Homo sapiens: one gene and its partner. Each later gene encodes a partner of the first gene's protein in a complex. Each region holds a gene or a part of one and is shown on either strand. Other genes may lie near its edges. The genes, in order: CDC40 and RBM22.

Region 1 (8,845 bases):
AGACTACTTTCTTTTTCAGAGGTAGGTCCAGAAAGAAGAAATGTCCTCATAAGAGGGACGTAAGCGGTAACTTTAGGGAAAATGAACTCTCAGGAAAAAAAGGGGGTTACACCAAGCTTCGAAGTATCTTAGAATTTTATTTGTAGCTAAAACAGATCTCCGAAGTCATCTACTTCTACCTTTTCATTTTATAATCAAACATCTTGAGAAGTAAAGTCACGCAGAAGACTGCATTTCCTTCTAATTTTTGTCATGCCCTAACTTCTTGTCCCAGATAATGTAAGCCTATGCCACTCACTGAACTGAGAAACAGCCTCCTCTTCAAGTCCACTGGGTGAAAGAGAACAAGTTCCTAATAATGTTGTCATGTCTAACACAAGAGTTACAGATCCTAGCATTTCAGGGTACATCTGAAACTTATTTTTCCCATAGAAAGACTGTCATACAAATTATTATAGGTATTTTAATATACTTATGCTAATTATTAACATAATTTTATAATTTCTTTAGTATTAACATAATCCTATAATTCAGGTATTTTATTATTTAAATAGGCTTTAGTGGGCTGTCTGTGACTCTAACCACTAAGTATACTGTTTCTGAGAAAATAAGACTCAAGTTCCAAACCATTTTACAAGTTGTAAAATGTAATCAATTGTGTAGTAAGTTAGAACTACCAATTCACAAAGACTCAAAATTATAAGCTGAATGTGATAAACTTAAAACACAAGATTCTTAATTTTATAAAAAGTTCCACTTCAGGGGTCATTTATTTTTAACAACTAGGTACTCAAGCATTCAGCATAGGATTTAATTTACATATATCTTTTTTATTACTATTTCACTAGAAAACGTAAGTCACAAAGAATCAAACACACTTCTATCTAGTGTAGGAAAAACAAAAAATATGTTAACATACATCTTCATAAAGTGAGCTATAAGAAGAAAATTGTTAATATTTCATAAATCAAAGACTACTAACATATACATTATTAAGTATCTAGTGCCAGTTCAAAAGTGTACAGGTAATGGAATTATATCTGAGCAGGTAAATGGAGTTCAAAGAACCTTGAAATTCATTTTTCTCTTTTCTCCTGAGATAAAGTTATACATTTCATTAATTATAATGTTTGATAAATCTTTAAAAATGTTTCACTAAATATATTAATTCAATGGATATTCTTTACCCATTCATTTTATTTGTTCAACAAAGAAAATTGAGCCCCTGCTATTTGTTAAACACTATACTAACAACTTTGGATTTATGACAATAAGCTGCAGGTCAGTTTCTCTCCTCAAAGAACTAAGAAAAACCACGACTTTACTGCATTTACCCAAGTGACGGTGTCAGCTAAATTTTAATTCATTTAAGAAAACATTATAAAACAAATTCTCAAAAACGAAACCATACAATAGTAACTTTAAACACACTTTAATAGTCTTATCTATATGAAGTTTTCTCACAAAGTAACCAAAAGCACTGTTTTGGTAAAAGTGCTAATAACATAATCTTTTGATAGTAGTCCAATAAGGAAATCACAAGGTACTATGTACTGTGATAATGAAAATCCAACACTTGGAAAAGATATCTTAAGTTATTCCTAAAATAAAGCAAAATGTATAATTAAATATAGTCTTATACAATATTAAAACTGTCTCTGAATATATGAATATTTACAAACATGAGTAATAAAGTAACTCTATAGCATACCTTATAAATGATCACAACTATGTATTTTGGATTGTAACACCTGCAAATTTGTAACAAAAAGGGCCTTAATATTTTTCGAATATATTATTCTTCACTAACTTAATTCAATATTCTACTTATTATCAAGTCATAATTTTTGTTTACTATTAACTATTTTATCTATATGTTTAACTATATGTAGGTATTAACTGTAATAACCTTTATGTCTGCAATTATTTAAAACCCTTGATAGATGAGAAACATTTTTCAGTTCAGAGGCATACCTCTCCAAAGCAAAAATCAATGTTAATCAGCCATTCTAATATGCCATGGAAAATCCTGACATTTTTTCATTGTATTTTTCACAGAAATTTTTTAATCATTCATCAGCTAAAAGATTTAAATTTTCTTTAAAAGGACTACAAAAACACACCTTTCCTGAATTTATGCACACTACCTACTAAATATTATCTCCATTTACATATAAGGAAACCAAGGCACAAAGGTGTCCATTTTGTAAATTGCAAGGTCATTTCCTAACCAAGCAACTAATCCTACACCATCAACTTATATTATATGTACGCCACTTCCAAGTGCCATAAAACAATTACTATACCTTAAAACTGCCTCTGCAATGCTTATGTGATTCTCTTTTATCAAAAGGGTAAATGCAACAAGCTTAAACAAGGAAAGATGGAAAAGGAAAATTATAAAAATACAACACTTACTTTTTATAGTGAATCATTTATTTTTAAATAATGAGATGTAAACAGTTTTTAACATAAAAATCAAGTAACCAACAGTGGTTTCTTATATTTGCAAAAAAAAAAAAATTTCATCCTTCAGGTAGATCACGCAAAACTGAAGCCTACTCATACTTGTAGATTCAAGTTAGAAAAAAAAAAACTGGATTCTAAAACAAGTAATTAAATACATGATATTGCAAAGAAAAAAGTGAATAAAAAATAAAATCAGATAAATTAGGGAATGACTGATATGATGGTTAAAATCCTCATCTTAAATATTAAATCCTTCCATTCAATGGAAGGCAACGATTAGTAATGACATATTCTGCTACCGAAAAACAAATACAAAACTTTTCTTATTCAAAACTTCCGAAATTTTATATCAAATACTTCATTCAAATATTCAATATAAACAAAAATGTTTCCTAACAGAAACTTAGAGCATAAAGGATAAACTGTTCCTGAGAGTTCAAATTGAGACTGCATTTCTAATTATGATATAATGCTATGAACAATCAGAAAAATGAATGTTACCTACCATGCAAATTTAAATTTAAGAACATTAGACGGATTGAATAACCAATAAGTCAATTACATCAATTAGTGAACAGAAAAAAGACCTTAGCTAATCGTGAATCTAACACCAAAGAAAAAATTTAAGTCGAATCCACCGCACATCTTATTACATAGAAAAGGAAATGATTAGAGTAAGTCGTATTTAAGTACCTAGTCTAGCTGGGGATCAATTAATTAATCGGTTATAGGGCAGGACGTGAATGTTGAGATCGGATGTGCTTTCTTTCATCGTTATTCCAGTTCATCATCCGCAAGTGCAAGAGAAGGTGTCAGAGTACCGAAGCTAGGGGGCATGCTGTAGCAAGGGGAAAAGAAAAATGGGAAAGGTGCAATGGATGCTGCATAGTTGAATAATTATCTGGGTGGCACAATGGGCGAGTCCTGCCGACATGAGCGCTGAGTGAGCGGCTCCGTAACTCTGCCCAAGGCAGCCCCCATGAACAGGCACCAGAAGCGACAGCACCGCTTCGCCTCCCCTTCCAACGAAGAAAAGGATGCCCGCACTCGCTTTACCGTTATGTTTTCAGACACCGACTCGCGGAGCAAACACGCAAACGCACGAGCTCGCTTTACCGAGCCTCGCGCACGTAGGGCGAGCAGGGGATTCTCTGTCGCCCGGGGCTACCGCCTCCCCCGGAAAGAGGCACGGGGCGGACCGCGGGCGCGGGTGGGCAGGGAAGCCCGGGCGGTGGCACCTCAGGTGACACCCACAGTCTCTCCAGCGAGAGCAGCCCCGGGGCGGTCCCTGCAGCCAAGCCCCAGGCGCGCCCGCCGCCGTCTCCCTCGGCACCCAGCCCCGCTGGCGGGTGGGCGGTGGGCGCTCGGAAAACCCGCGGATGGGGGTGGGGGCCGGGGCGGGGAAGGCGCGCCCATCCATCCCCGTCACCTTTGCGGGCCACACACCACTCGGTCTGCTCCGGCCAGTAAGGAAGAGTTCCTCTCCCAACACCCCCTCCCCGAAAAAAGCAATTCCTCAGGGACTCGCGCTCACCGTGAAATCTTGGGGGCTCACGCCTTACCCCTTCTTCATGCTTCGGCAGCGGTCGCCGGTCCCCCTCGGCTCGCGGGACTCCGCCTAGAGCCCCCAGGAGGGTCGGGCTCTGGGGCGGAACCCGCTCAGGGCAGCGGCCCAGGCGCCAGGCCACAGGGAACGCCGCCTGGGGCGCCAACCCGCCGCCGGACCCACCGTGTGCTCGACGCGCGAGTGAACAACACCGCGAGCTGCCGTTCCCCCCGCCCCCTCCCCGCGCGAGACGCTCCACAACCGGGCGCAGGGACCCGCGCCAGAAGCAGGGGGGACCGCGAGACTCTTTCCGCCTATGGTCCCATCCTTGCCCCCCGCCCCAGGAGCTATTCCTGGCCAGTCAGAGGTCTCAAAACTTCAGATTCTCACTTTCCTCTTCAGCCTCCAGTGCCCAGGTGCAGCCGAGGTGGGAAATCCAGCCTCCGCCCACTCCCCCATTAGTGGGGCCGAAGCTCGCTCTTCCCCCCTTTCCTGAGGTTCTGTGGTATTGCCCAATCCTCAGTTTGGGGGAGGGGGACGAAGAGAACACTGCTTGGCTAGGGAATGAGGGAAGATGATAGCCAATTGAATGGAACATCCATTCGGGGGCGGGGTCAAAGGGGGACACGCCCCCGTTCCGCCCCCTCGTTGCAAACTACACTTCCCATTGTGCCCTCTCGCGCTTCCTGCCGCGCTGCACGCTGGGAGTGCAGGACCGCGAGGCCTCAAGGTATTTTGGAACTCATATTCTTTAGTCAACTAGGTCCTAAATGTTATAAACTATTATAATTCTCCCTTTTTCCCTAGATAAACTTTTTTAAGCTCTCAGCTCGACAGTAGTTATTCTAATAATAATTAGCTTATTGTTTCAAAATGTAAGACATTATTTCTTAGCAAAGAAAGTTAATGATGTGTTCCATTGCAATCTGTCAGGACCTGGGAGCCTCTTCTTCTTCCGCCCTGGCAGGGTCTCCGCAGAAGATTTGTTGCCGTCATGTCGGCTGCGATTGCAGCTCTGGCCGCTTCCTATGGTTCGGGTTCAGGGTCCGAATCGGACTCGGACAGTGAGAGCAGTCGGTGTCCGCTGCCAGCCGCCGACTCCCTCATGCACTTGACTAAATCGCCTTCATCAAAGCCGTCTCTAGCAGTGGCAGTGGACTCGGCTCCGGAGGTGGCAGTTAAGGTAAGCACTTTTGCTACTAATGCAGTGTGGGAATTGTTGGCTTCAGCTCCAGAACTGCCAGCCGCTTGTTAGGTACCGGGTTACCTCTTTCTCAGTGCTCAGAGATAAGTTGCTAACGTTTGAATTTCTTCTCCTTCCCACATGCATCCTCGGGAGAGGCAGAATTGGAAGTTCGGAATAGCCCTCCGATGCTCTCTGCCCTTGCCTCCCGCCATCAGAAAGCAAGTGGAAGGAGGGGATGAAATTTGAATTTGTGGATTAGGGACATAGCCTGGAAAGTGCAGGTGTAATCTCGGAACATAAGTGAAATTAGATCAGGACTTCCCAAACTAGAGTATTGTGTGAGCAGTGGCCTCGATTTGTCTTATTTTTGAAGAACTAGGTTCTAATCCTGGCACCACCACTTGTGTGAACTTGGACAAGTTATGCAGCCTCCTTTCTTTCCTCACCTGTACAGTGGAGATCATTTTCAAAACATCTGTCTACATGAAAAGATGAGTGTGAAAATTGAGTGAAATTACACAAATAAAGCATATAGCACAGAGCCAACTAGTGAGAGTGCAGTAAATGTTTTATGATTGTGTGTGTTAATACAGTGAGAAAAAGGCCTTGGATTTGAGAAACAGCTGCATGATCTCAATGGAGGAAGCTGATTAATAAGGCAAGAGTTTCCAGGCAGAGGTGACAGGCAAGCCTGAGAACGCAAAGAGCCTAGTGGGTTTGAAGAACTGAGGAAAAGCTGATGTGTCTGGAGCCTGATGAGAGCATCTACCAATTGGTAGTGTAGGCCCAGTAGAGCCCGAGGTAGGTGATCAGCTCAAGATGTGAAGAGGGGAGGCGGTGTCCAAAAATTCCTTTGTATCATGTCCCCAAGTCTAGTTTAATGACTTAAGAAGTGTTTTACAGGTTTTTAACAAGCTGTATGTGAATTTTACTTTTTAAAAATGGACATCTGTCATGAAAGAATGCTTAGAATCCTCCTAACTTCCTATCAAAACAAAACTTTCCAAACTTAAGCCCCTCCAGTAACCTCCTGAGTCTTCTCCTTTCACAGCTCAGCTTTTTGGAGCTCTCTTTTTGTCTTCGTCTCATTTTCTCCTCAACCCAATGCAGTCTGGCCCTATCCTCTTGGGAAACTACTGTCTGTGAGTGATGTCCCAGGCCTTCCAGTTGTCAAGTTCAGCCATCTGACTTAAATGTCTGCATCAAATGACACTGTTCATTAGTTCCTCTTTCTTGAAACTTTCTCTCCGTTTCGCTTCCATGGGGCTCTACTCAGCATTCTGTTCCAATTATTTTACTCTCCCTTTTCAATACTGGTGTTTCCCAGGACTCTGCTCTTAGTCCTCTTTGCATTCCACATATTCTCCCATACCTTCAACCTCAGGCTGTGCTGCTTCTAGCTCAAGGTGAACACCGTGAAATGGTTAGCACAGGCTCTGGAATTAAGACTGTAATTCAAATCCTGCCTCCAGCACTTACCCACCTGGGGACCTTGGATAAGTTACTTAAATGCTCTGTACCTAATTTTTGCTGATCTGTAAAGTAGGAATAACAGTAGTACCTATCTAACAGAATTATAATAATTGTCATAAAAGATGTAAAGCCCTTTTAACAGTGCCACACACAATGAACACTAATTAAATGCTTGCTATCCTTTTATTTCCAGTTCTATCCTCCTTGCTAGCTTACGATCTTGAGAGGTATATAAAAATCTCCCACAGTAATTGTACATTTGTCTTTTGCAGGTTGGCGCTCAGCCACCTCCAATTCAGTGTGTCGAAAAATTATTTTCTTTCCCTCAAAATCCACTTCTGTTTTTCCTATTTTGATCTGTCATCCCACAATCCACCCACTAGTTGAAGCCGAGAACAAAGAAGGTATCCTTTTCTCTTCCTTCTTCCTCAGCCCCTGAAGCTAGTCATTCAATTGATTCTAACATTGCTGTTTCATTAATTTCTCTCACATCAACTCCTTCCTTGCTATTTTCACTGGTGCAGGCTTCATATCTTCCTTATTTCTCCCAGGAGTTATTCTTTTCTTTCTCTTTCAGCCTTTTTGGGTAGTGGGTTCTGTCCACTTTAACTCAATGATATTCATCAAATCTCTCTCTTCTGCTGCCACTGTTTAGTTCAGATTCTCATCATTTCTCTTCAGACAGTTGTAGCCTTCTAACTGATCTTTCTACTTCTTCCTTTCTTGTCTCCCAGTTTTATACCCCATTCTTTTCTCCACAGTGCACTTAGAATGATCTTTGTAAATTCCACTTACATCGTATCACTTCCCTGCCCAAAGACACCATGTTGTCCAATGGGTGATTTCTAAGTTTTTTTGGTAGCATGTGAGTCCTGCTATTCTCCCATGCTGAACTCTTTACAAAGCCCTGAAAGCCGAATTTTCTTTCTTCCTCTGAAGATTTTGCCCACGCTAGTCTTTCTGCCTGGAAATCCCTTGCCTAGTGCCTCCTTCCCCCACTCCAAACACTGTGGTCCTTCAGTCTCAGTGTATATGTTTCCTCCTATTTTACCTTAGCCCCTTTATCATATCTTAACTATAGCACTTAGCACATTGCTGTAACTTGTTCATCTTTTTCTTTCCTCTGGACTGTGAGACCCTGGGGTCCAGAGACTGTTGTATCCATTCGTTTGTGTCTCCAGTGCCTAGTACACAAGATTAGGGAAGTATATTTGGTAAGAGAATGGAATGAAAAAGAAAGTCTTGTAAAAGTATGCACATTAAGAATCAGAATTTTAGAGCTGGACATGCAGTGGCAGGGATGGGGGTGTTTGTCTAGAGCTCACTTAGTGCAATCACGAATAAATAAGGGAACCCAGGAGGAAAGGCTGCGTAAGGTACCAGAAGTCCATTAGAGGTAGAGCTGGGGCTAGTCCACCCAGTGGTCTGGGTTCTATGAGAGCGTAGAGGGCATTGCTCATTGTTGGTTTATGAACCAACACTTGTTTATATGAAGGGAAAACAAACTTACACATAGTAAATATAATGATTGCAAATGATTGGAAAATTGGAAAATGACCAAGGGAGATGTGAAGCATGCAAATATATTCATCTGTAGTTGACTAATTGTATTATGATTAATAGCAAGCATTTTGGCAGAGAATACATTTTTGCAGCGTTTTTAATCTATGTTTTTTCCGAGCTGTTTCCTGCAGTTGAGTATCTTTTAATATGTTATTGGTGATTTAATTTTTTTTTCTTTGGAAGCAACTATTGGGTTGTCATTTCCTTTTGATTTTTAGAAGACCTTTACATATTCTGGATACTATCCTTTGTCAATTGTGTGTGTTGCAAATTTTTTTTCTTTTGTGACTTGTCTTCTCACTTTTCCCTGTTGTTTACAAACAATTATTTATGTAGTCTGTGCTTGTCAAATTATTCCTTTATGTATCGGGTTCCTGTTGCTTGTTTGAGAAATCCTTAACTCATAGTCATGAAAATATTCTCTTGTATTATCTCTTGAAAGCTTTTCACATTTAAGTCATTAATCCATATGAAATTAACTTTTGTCTATAGTGCGAACATTCTTAATAATATGGCTTGATAGGTGATAGGGCAGTTCCCTTGCCCTTTTTTGTTGGCTCTTCTTGGCCCTGTAATTCTATATACAGTTTAGAATTAAGTTGGAAAGT
Region 2 (9,496 bases), on another chromosome or scaffold:
TATTCCACTGAGAATCTGATTAAAGCTATGAACCTCGCCCCAGAGAAAGCACATACATTATTTTTTAGGGGGTGGGGTTAACCAATCCCAAATTAAGAACTCCTAATCCAGATGCTTGGCAGTCTTAACCAAAACATACACACCCTTTAGAAGTCTGACCTTACTTTGACTTCAACTATACATTGAGAGTCAACTCATTTAAACCATGGCAGTGAAGATTTACTTCTCAGGCAGAAATGTTTAGGGTCAGCATCTATATTGTATGGCATAGCAATTTAGTTTCCAAGGCTCAATTGTAAGTAAAAACTACAATTTATTCATGCTCTTCTAAATTTCATAGTTCTAAGACATGAGGTATACCACATTAGTTGTATGACCTTTAGATTTTAAAGCAGAAACAGTTTAAGTTAGGACCTCCCACTTCTTAGATGAGAAATCATCTGAAAGCAAATACTGAAAATGAGGCTCGCTCTTGCCTGTATGGACATTCCTCTCCTCTCTTACACTCTCCTTTCACCCAGAAGGAGCAAATGTGGGGTCGATTCCTTTTGTAGTAGGGTGTGGTCCGGGCCAGTTTGAGCAGCATGTCACTGGTAGATGTGGCTTTCCCCAGCATGCCAACTGGCCGTGTTCCATCAGAGTTAGAAATCTAAGTGGGGATGACAAATTCAAAAGATAAATTATACAGACTGTGTCAATTCATTAGGATTTTTATCCAAAAAGTGGCAGCATACCTCTCTCTCCATATTCTGTGTATAGTACTCTTTGTTGACATCTGACTTTGGCATGTCATCTTTAAAAGACAATCCTGCGTCACGAACCTGGATGGGCAGGCCTGGTACAAAAAAAGAGGAAAAAGACCTCAGATGTATTTTAAAACATATCCATACTAACCATGCACACAGAATACATCATCTTTCCCTTCTCCTCTTTCCTATTTAGTACCAGAGACTTTACTATGTTTTTATTCAAACTCTTTAGCACCATCAGGTTACTTCTGCTACACAGCATGCTAAGAAATTGTCCAAATTCCTGAACTGTCAGGAAATTTGATGAAATTAATGCTTTAGAAAAAATCTTTTAGGCTGGGTGTGGTGGCTCATGCCTGTAATCCTAGCACTTTGCAAGGCTGGAGCTGACAGATAGCTTGAGTCCAGGAGTTCGAGACCAGCCTGGTCAACGTGGTGAAACCCCATTTCTACAAAAAATACAAAAATTAGCTGGGTGTGGTGGTATGCACCTGTAGTCCTAGCTACCCAGGAGGCTGAGGTGGATCACCTGAGCTTGGAAAGGTTAAGGCTGCAGTGAGCCATGACCATGCCACTGCACTCCAGCCTGGGCAACAGAGTGACACCCTGTCTCAAAAACAAAAAACAAAAAAATTATAAAAGAAAATTTTTAGATGAACAAACTGTGCCCATGGTCATATTCAACCTGTAAATTAGCTCCTAGTTTTTATTACAACATGATTTATTTAAAGTAAATGTAAAAGTGGTTTCTTTCTAGGTTAGTCTTACAGATCCTCTGGATAGTCACAGTCATCTAAGGGTCACTGTACTCCAGGACCAGACGCCTCCTTAACAAACATATAAATAATATTACATAAAATGTGGCCAGGACTCTGACTAGAAGAGTAACTCTAATGAACTTAACATACATAAACTCATATATTTTTCCCTTTCCTTTAATAGTAAAAACTCTTGTTGAAAAATTATCTTTCTGAAAAACAGTCACCTATGGTTAAAAAAAAAATTACTCCCAAAAGCAGTTACTCTGAAACAGTAGCAATATATCAGTTCTAACAACACAATTGAAATAAAAGTCTAAAGCACAATTAGGCTGGCTATAGTGGCTCTGGGAGGCCAAGGTGGGAGGACTGCTTGAGGCCAGAAGCTCAAAACCAGCCTGGGCAAAATAGTGACACACACACACACGTGCACTGGGTGTGGTGGTATACCAGGAGGCAGAGGCAAGAGGATCCCTTGAGCCCAGGAGTTCGAAGTTGCAGTGAGCTGTGATCACACCACTGTACTCTAGCCTGGGTGTCAGAGTGAGACCCTAACTCAAAAAATAAAATAAAATAAAGCACAATTACCCTGTGAGCTTCTGATTGGGATGGTGGAAAAAAGCTCTGGATCAAGAAAGAAGCCTAAGGCAAATAAATTATCTATCATAGGATCAACGCCTTTTACCTCACTTGGGCTACAGAGATGAAGGTTTAGGCCACTTTTGATTAATTCCCAACTTTTCCTTAAGTTCCTACTATTGTTCAGGACTCTAGAGTGGCCTAATTATGGTTCTTTTCCTGGGAAAAGCAGACCACGGCAGACATTCCAAAGTGAAATCAGAACCAGAGCTAGGGTGCGAAGTGGGAGACAAAAGACTGACTTGTAGTTTTAGGCACCTGCACACTTTCAGATTTATTGGACAGGTCAAACATACCATACTCTAGGTCTAAGAGGCAGGTCTGACAGACATTCTTCAATTTACTGCAGGTTTGGCACACTTCAGTCTTCTTGAAACGCATGCGGACTCCAGGGCACCAGCGAAACACTGTGAATGGCCTGGCACAGATCTGGAACACAAAGCAAGAGCCATAGAATGTCAATGGTCCTGATCTGGGCAATCTGGAGATCTGATAACAACGGGGCATTCAAAAAAGGATCCCTGAATGTAGGATTTAGAAGAGACCTTAGCAATCATCTAGTTGATTTGATGTTTCAATACAATTTTCAGCATCCTTCTCCAGCAAAAATTCAGAGTACAGAAATGAAATAGCCAAAGGGTCAAAGTTCTTCCCATCCTAGAGCTAAGCACCAATAATAATCTGAACCTTAATCTTTTTTAGGGGGAGTGGGGAGTGTCATGTAATTTTTTGAGAAGCTTCTGACAAGAATGACCTTCCTCCTCAGCTAAAATGCTCGAGTGGACAGTCATACACCACCTGGTGTACAAACTCCTCCAGTGCCCATCCACTGACACCGTAAGAATCTCTACATTAGAGGGTTCATTTTCTTACCTCCCACATAAACAGTTGCCAGCCAATGAATATATCAGTAATACATAAAAAGTTGTATAGCACTGATTTTTACTGGAAGACCTCAAAACTTAGTAAGCTGAAGGCTAATTTGGTAGAGAAAAGAAAAATGAAACAGAAATCATTACTCTTTAACAGACATACTTACTTTGCATTCCTTCCCATACTTTTCTTTGGTCTATAATAGAAAAAAAATAGAAAAGAACTGGAGTTACAGAAAGAAAAAAGCCAGATGTCTACTCTTTCCTTAAACATAACCCAAGAAATGTGTCTGGAAATCCCTGGCATCCTAGAGAGAGAAAAACAGCAACAACAAAACCCAAAACCCAACCTTTTTTGGGAAGAGGGTAGGGAACATACTATAACAACATATTATAAGTGATAACATCTCAAGAGTATATGGATCTGGGCTGGGTGGCAGTGGCTCACGCCTGTAATCCCAACACTTTGAGAGGCCAAGGTGGAAGGATTGCTTGAGCCCAGGAGTTCCAGACTAGCCTGGGCAACATAGCGAGATGCTGTCTCTACAGAAAAAAGAAATAGAGTATATGCATCTAATGCTAGGTAAGTGAGTGTCTTTCCACAGCCACAACTCTTAGGTTCATTTTTGGCTCCCAAGTTCACTCCCAAGAACTAACATTCCTAATGCTTTCCACAATCCCTAAATCAGAGAGGATACAGCTGTGGCCCGCCCACTTTACAAAGTTTAGTCAAAAGGTAGCTACTGTAGACTTGTCCTGTGCCAATGCCCGGAATATAGTAAATGTTCTGTTTAAACAGAACTATTCAAACATCTTGAACCATTCAAACATCGTGAACATACTAACATATCAACACCTCTACGACTACACAATAATACAGCCCTAACCTTATTATTGTTAACTGGTTCTAATTTTACCCTAGTTTGTAACAAAGGGGGAATGCTTACTTTAAAGAGATAAAGTACACTGGCCAAAAGGCATTTGACCAGGATTCAGGAAACCTAGTTTCTAGTTCTGGTTCTCCTCCTATCATGCTGACATTCCTAGAGCCAGAATATGTGAACTTAAATCCCAGCTCCATTCCTTACTATTGTATGAAAAGACACAAACGCTCTCACCTTCTGGTCAACAGACCTATTTCCTAGGTAAATGCTCAACAAATACTAGCTATCGTTATTACCCCTACATTACAGGAGTGTTACCGGATTCGTAAGAGAATACACATGACAGTTCTTTGCAAGTCGTCCAGCACTTCGCGTTAGTAAAAGAGCATCATTTTTTCTGCTTGTCTAAGAGAAACACTTCACAGTGTGCAAGTACCACAACATCGACAGGACATGAATAACTCGTTTCACACGCGATCACTCACCATTCGGATATATGGGTTTTCTCCAAGACATGTCTGGCACAGAATGGGGAAGTCCTGGTGAAAATGGGAAATCTGGTTGAGGACCACCCTCCGAAGACCCTGACACCTCAGTGACACTTGGGGTGGCGAGGGGGCGGGAAGCGAGGGTGGGGAACTAGGCACGGCAGGAACCCGAAGTCCATCACGACCCGATCGCGGGAGGGGGCGCTGTCTGCACTTCCGGCAGGCGGCGGGAGAAAAGAAAACCAGCTCTAATAGGCTGGAGGGGGCAGGGATGGAAAGGGTGCTGGTCCCGGGACCCTGGCTAAGCCCCCTCCCTTCAAGCCCGCAGGAGGATCGCCCTCCGCCCTCCTGCTCCGGCCAAGCTAGGCCGCCGCGCTGGCTCCTCCCCGGTATTCCTTCGGCCGCGCCGCAGGCCCTGTCCTGCCAGCTTGCAAGGTGCGCGGCTTCGCCTCCTCCTTCCATCCTCCTCCGGCAGGCACACTCACCGCATCCTCCCAGTTCTGCCTGTTGTAGGTGTTGGAACCCAGAGAGGTCGCCATCTTGAGAGCGTCCGGAGGTAGCTGTAGCTTCCGAATTGGGAGAGAGGACCGCCACAATCCCGTCAAGCCCCGAGGCTAGCGCCGCGCCGGTCGGCGTCTTATTTACGCGTCTAGGGCTTCTTCCGGGGCGGGGCCTTTGCGTCATGACGTCGCCCGCTCTTGGAATTTCTAAGCTTAACAATTGGGGTCCTGGTATAATGCACCTGGATGCTTCCTTCGAGTTTTTGCCTGCTTGGAATGAAGGGCCACACGTACAGTTGATTCATTTAACAATTGGGCGAAAGAATAAAGGAAGACGTAATGCATCAGAGGCTGGGGTTAAAATAGCGTTCGCTACCACTGAGGCGCTTATTATGCCAAACTCTGGGCGAACGTCTTGCGGTTCCAGTGTCTTATTTATTCGCATAACCTCTCTGTAGGGCTCTCTGTAGGGCTGCCAGATTCTGATTCTGTCTCTCTCTCTCTCTCTCTCTCTCTCTCTCTCTCTCTGTCACTCACACACACACATGCACACACACACACGCACGAATTACAGAACGTCTAAAGTTGAATTTCAGATTAACGGCGAATCGCTTTTTAATTATAAATATATATGGTACCTACTCGTCCTAAAGTAGGATTCGTGGTTGACCTGAAATTCACATCACTTAACCAATCGTCCTGTATTTTATCTGGTAACTCTACCCTGTAGGCAAGTATGATGATCCCTCTTTTATAGAAAAGAAAACAGGTTTAGAGAGATTAACCTAATCTCTCCTGATATAGCTCCTGGTTGTGGAGCTAAAAAGTGGTGAAGCCACAAATTCATTAGTACTGTTTCATTTCCAGCTTCTGAAATGACAAGGGTCTTACGAATCAACATATGCATTATTTGATTTTTGGAATAACTCATAACCACTCTGCCAATATTTTATGAGTTTCAAGCCATTCTGGTACCACTTTCATACTTACCGTGTCATCAAGCTACCTAACACATTTATTTAAATCACCTCATTAAAAAAAAAAGTTGATTTAAAGTATAATTTACATAAAGTTTTATCCTTTTTAGTTTTGAATTTTGTACATACATTCACTTACAGTCAAATATGGAATTGTCTGTCATCCCCAAAGTTCCCTTGTTTCTGTAGTTAGTCCACTTATCCCATACTCAAACCATGGCAATCACTAATTTGTGTTCTGTCCCTAGTTTTGCCTTTTCCAGAATGTCACATAAGTGGAATCCTATATATCCTTTTGGATCTGATATTTTTTCACTTAGTATTTTGTAGTTGAGATTCATCCATATTATTACATGTATCAATAATTTCTTCCTTTGTATTACTGAGTAGAATTCCATTGTATGGATATATCATACAATTCACTTGCCAGTTGCTGGATATTTGGGTTGTTCCCAGATTTTAGTGAATATAAATAAAACCATTATAAACATTCACATACAGATCGTTGTATGGACATTGGTTTTCATTTTGCTTGTGTAAATGCCTTAGAGTGAGATTATTTGATCATATGGTAAGTATATCTTTTCCTTTATAAGAAAGTCCTTGGGTTTATCTGAGCTTCTTGGATCTGTGATTTGTTGTCTTTTATTATATTTGGAAAATTCTCAAGTATCATCTCTTCAGACTGTCTTCTGCCTGGTTTCTACATCTGTGACTCCAATTTCACATGCCTTGTGAGGAGTGCAAGGTCAGAAATAACAGAGTCCACGTACATTTGTGTTTTTCCACAATGCCAGACTTTTACTGATGCTATTTCAATCACAAAAGCCACGAACTACATGGAGTTTCCAAGAAAGCAATTCTCCTTAGTACTTCCCACTCACTCAGCACTCAGAGTCTTGGACACACAGGCTCAAGGCACTCCACAGGTCAATCAATATTGCAAATCATGCATAATGGTATACTTAATCAACATATATATTATAGAGTGAACATTCCACAAACAAAATAACATTTAACATTAAGAGAAAAGAGATAGGACCCTTTTCTCCTTTAAGTCTGGAGCCCTCAGAATCATCTCCTTTCCTTCCTTTTTCCCTCTTTCCTCCCCCAATTTATTTTTTAATCTTTGTGGGACATGACTTCTAGGAATGAGCCTTCCTAGCAACATGGAACATGACTTCCTAGGAATGAGCCTTCCTAGTAACGTGAGACCTGAATTTCCTGGAATAAACCATCCTAGCGACAAGAAACCAGCTCAAAAAAGGAGGAAAAAGCGAACTGAGGCCAGGAACACATATTCCTTTTAAAATGCTTTCTCCAAAAGATGTTAAAGAAAAAAAGGGGGAAATGTGAAAGGAAATTAAATCTTGGGACCCCAGACTCATTAAGCCAAAGGGAAAAGTCAAGCTGGGAAGTGGGTCACACAAACCTGCCTCCCGCTTTTGGTTCCTAAATAAGATGGCTACAAGATGGAAAGCTACATGCCTCCCCCATATTTTGCCCACAAGGAAATTCCTAGTGAGGAATTTTACTTTCCTAGAAAGGAAAAAAGAAAAGAGATGAAAAAATATATATAGGGACTAGGCCAGATTTATAGCAACAAAAGGAAAGCAAACCTGGAAGCTGGGTCAAGCTTTATTATATTACTGCCTCCTCAATTAAAGCAATTCTCTGGGCAATCATTACCTTAGCCCTTTCGGTTGCATATTGACTTATTTGCAAACACGTACTATAACAACATTGTAAGCAGAAACAGGACAGAACATAAATTATTCCTTCTATTATAAGCAATAGCTTCTGCCACTAAATTCCCCAGGATCCAAACCAACCACTCAAGCAATGGATTAGTGAGGGTTTTGGATCTGACAGTTGCTTATCTGGGTTTTCATACTGGTCATAATTCAGTTTATGTTCTTTGATTCATCTGGAATATACACACAACATTCAGTTTTTACGGTGGCACAGGTTCCCCTTGTGCTGCCATGAGTATATCTAAAGCCACATAGTTTTGCAACACAGCTTTCCTCATAAGCATGACCTCATTGCTTAGCAAAGAGGTACTCATGCAGCTACCATTTAGGGCCTTTGGGTGTAATTCGTTATGGCCTCTATATGCCATATAACATCTTCGATACCTATCTGTGGTACAAAGATTGAAGCTAAGTGATCATAGCACTGGAATACCAAACATGTCCAATGAGATTGTAAATGAAAAAGGTTTGCTGGTTTAATGGAAGGGTCTGAATTACTGGGCAACATATGGGGGAGGCATGTAGCTTTTCATCTTATAGCCATCTTATTTAGGAACCAAAAGCAGGAGGCAGGTTTGTGTGACCCAGTTCCCAGCTCGACTTTTCCCTTTGGCTTAATGAGTTTGGGGTCCCAAGATTTAATTTCCTTTCACAATATATATAATCCATATTTTCCTTTTCTTTTTTTTCGAGATGGGGGTCTCACTTTGTCACCCAGGCATGATCATAGCTCACTGTTACCTGGAATTCTTGGGTTCAAGGGATCCTCCAGCCTTAGCCTCCCAAGTAGCTGTGACTATAGAAGCAGGCCACGGTGCCCAGCTAATTTTTAACTTTTTTGTAGAGACAGGGTCTCACCATGTTGCCCAAGCTGGTCTCGGAACTCCTGGGCTCAAGTGATTCTCCAGCCTTGGCCTCCCAAAGTGCTGGGATTACAAGTGTGAGCCATGGCACCTGGCTCCATGTTTTCCACCAGATTTTTTAACATTGTAGGGGCCAACAGAAAAGTTCCCCTTTGCCCTCTTAAGATTCACTGAAAATTAACTAGCAAAAGGCAGATTAATAGGAGAAAAGACATACAAATTTATTTGATCATAGTTTTACCTGACATAGGAGCCTTCAGAATGAAGACACAGATGGGAAATTGTCCATTTATATGCCTAGGTTCAACAAAGTATGGACAGCTATGTAGAAATAGGATTGGACAAAAAGCGTACTGATTTAGCGCTAATAGACTGAGTGGGGAAACCCAGCGAGGCCTGTCTGTCTAGATTCTTGGCCTCTCTCGGCAGCATTCCTTCCTTCTGGGTATGTACAGGACCGTCTTTGGAATGGGGGTCTTATGACCTACAATCTAAAACAAAGTAGCTCAGATAATTTATTCAGAGCCAGTTTTTACACAAAAGCAAGGCGGAAGTTAGAGTAGTTTTTTTTTTTTTTTTTTTTTTTGAGACAGAGTCTTGCTCTGTCGCCCAGGCTGGAGTGCAATGGTGCGATCTCGGCTCACTGCAACCTCCACCTCCCAAGTTCAAGTAATTCTCCTGCCTCAGCCTCCTGAGTAGCGGGGATTACAGGCACGCACCACCATGCCTGGCTAATTTTTGTATTTTCAGTAGAGACAGGGTTTCATCATGTTGGTCAGGCTGGTCTCGAACTCCTGACTTTGTGATCCACCTGCCTCTGCCTCCCAAAGTGCTGGGATTACAGGTGTGAGCCACCGCGCCCGGCCTAGAGTAGTATTTTACATTTTATGGCTGGCTTTGGGGAAAAGGGGTTCTCTCTATGACCCACCTTGAGGAAAAGGGATTCAGTGTCTGTGGCTAGGCTTGGGGAAGAATGAAGGGCCAGAGACAGGAAGGCAGAAGGTCAGAGAGA

The links.
Region 2: CDC40 (region 1) and RBM22 share a complex: the UniProt entries of both Homo sapiens proteins name them as parts of the postcatalytic spliceosome P complex.

Annotation. Positions count from the first base shown.
Region 1 is NC_000006.12:110,175,436-110,184,280, forward strand, and holds the start of CDC40 (pre-mRNA-processing factor 17), read left to right. Parts: upstream 1-4,991; 5' UTR 4,992-5,009; coding exon 5,010-5,198; intron 5,199-8,845. UniProt on the Homo sapiens protein: Required for pre-mRNA splicing as component of the activated spliceosome. Plays an important role in embryonic brain development; this function does not require proline isomerization.
Region 2 is NC_000005.10:150,696,057-150,705,552, forward strand, and holds the start of RBM22 (pre-mRNA-splicing factor RBM22), read right to left. Parts: upstream 5,007-9,496; 5' UTR 4,930-5,006; coding exon 4,876-4,929; intron 4,442-4,875; coding exon 4,388-4,441; intron 3,216-4,387; coding exon 3,186-3,215; intron 2,576-3,185; coding exon 2,443-2,575; intron 836-2,442; coding exon 735-835; intron 650-734; coding exon 477-649; intron 1-476. UniProt on the Homo sapiens protein: Required for pre-mRNA splicing as component of the activated spliceosome. Involved in the first step of pre-mRNA splicing.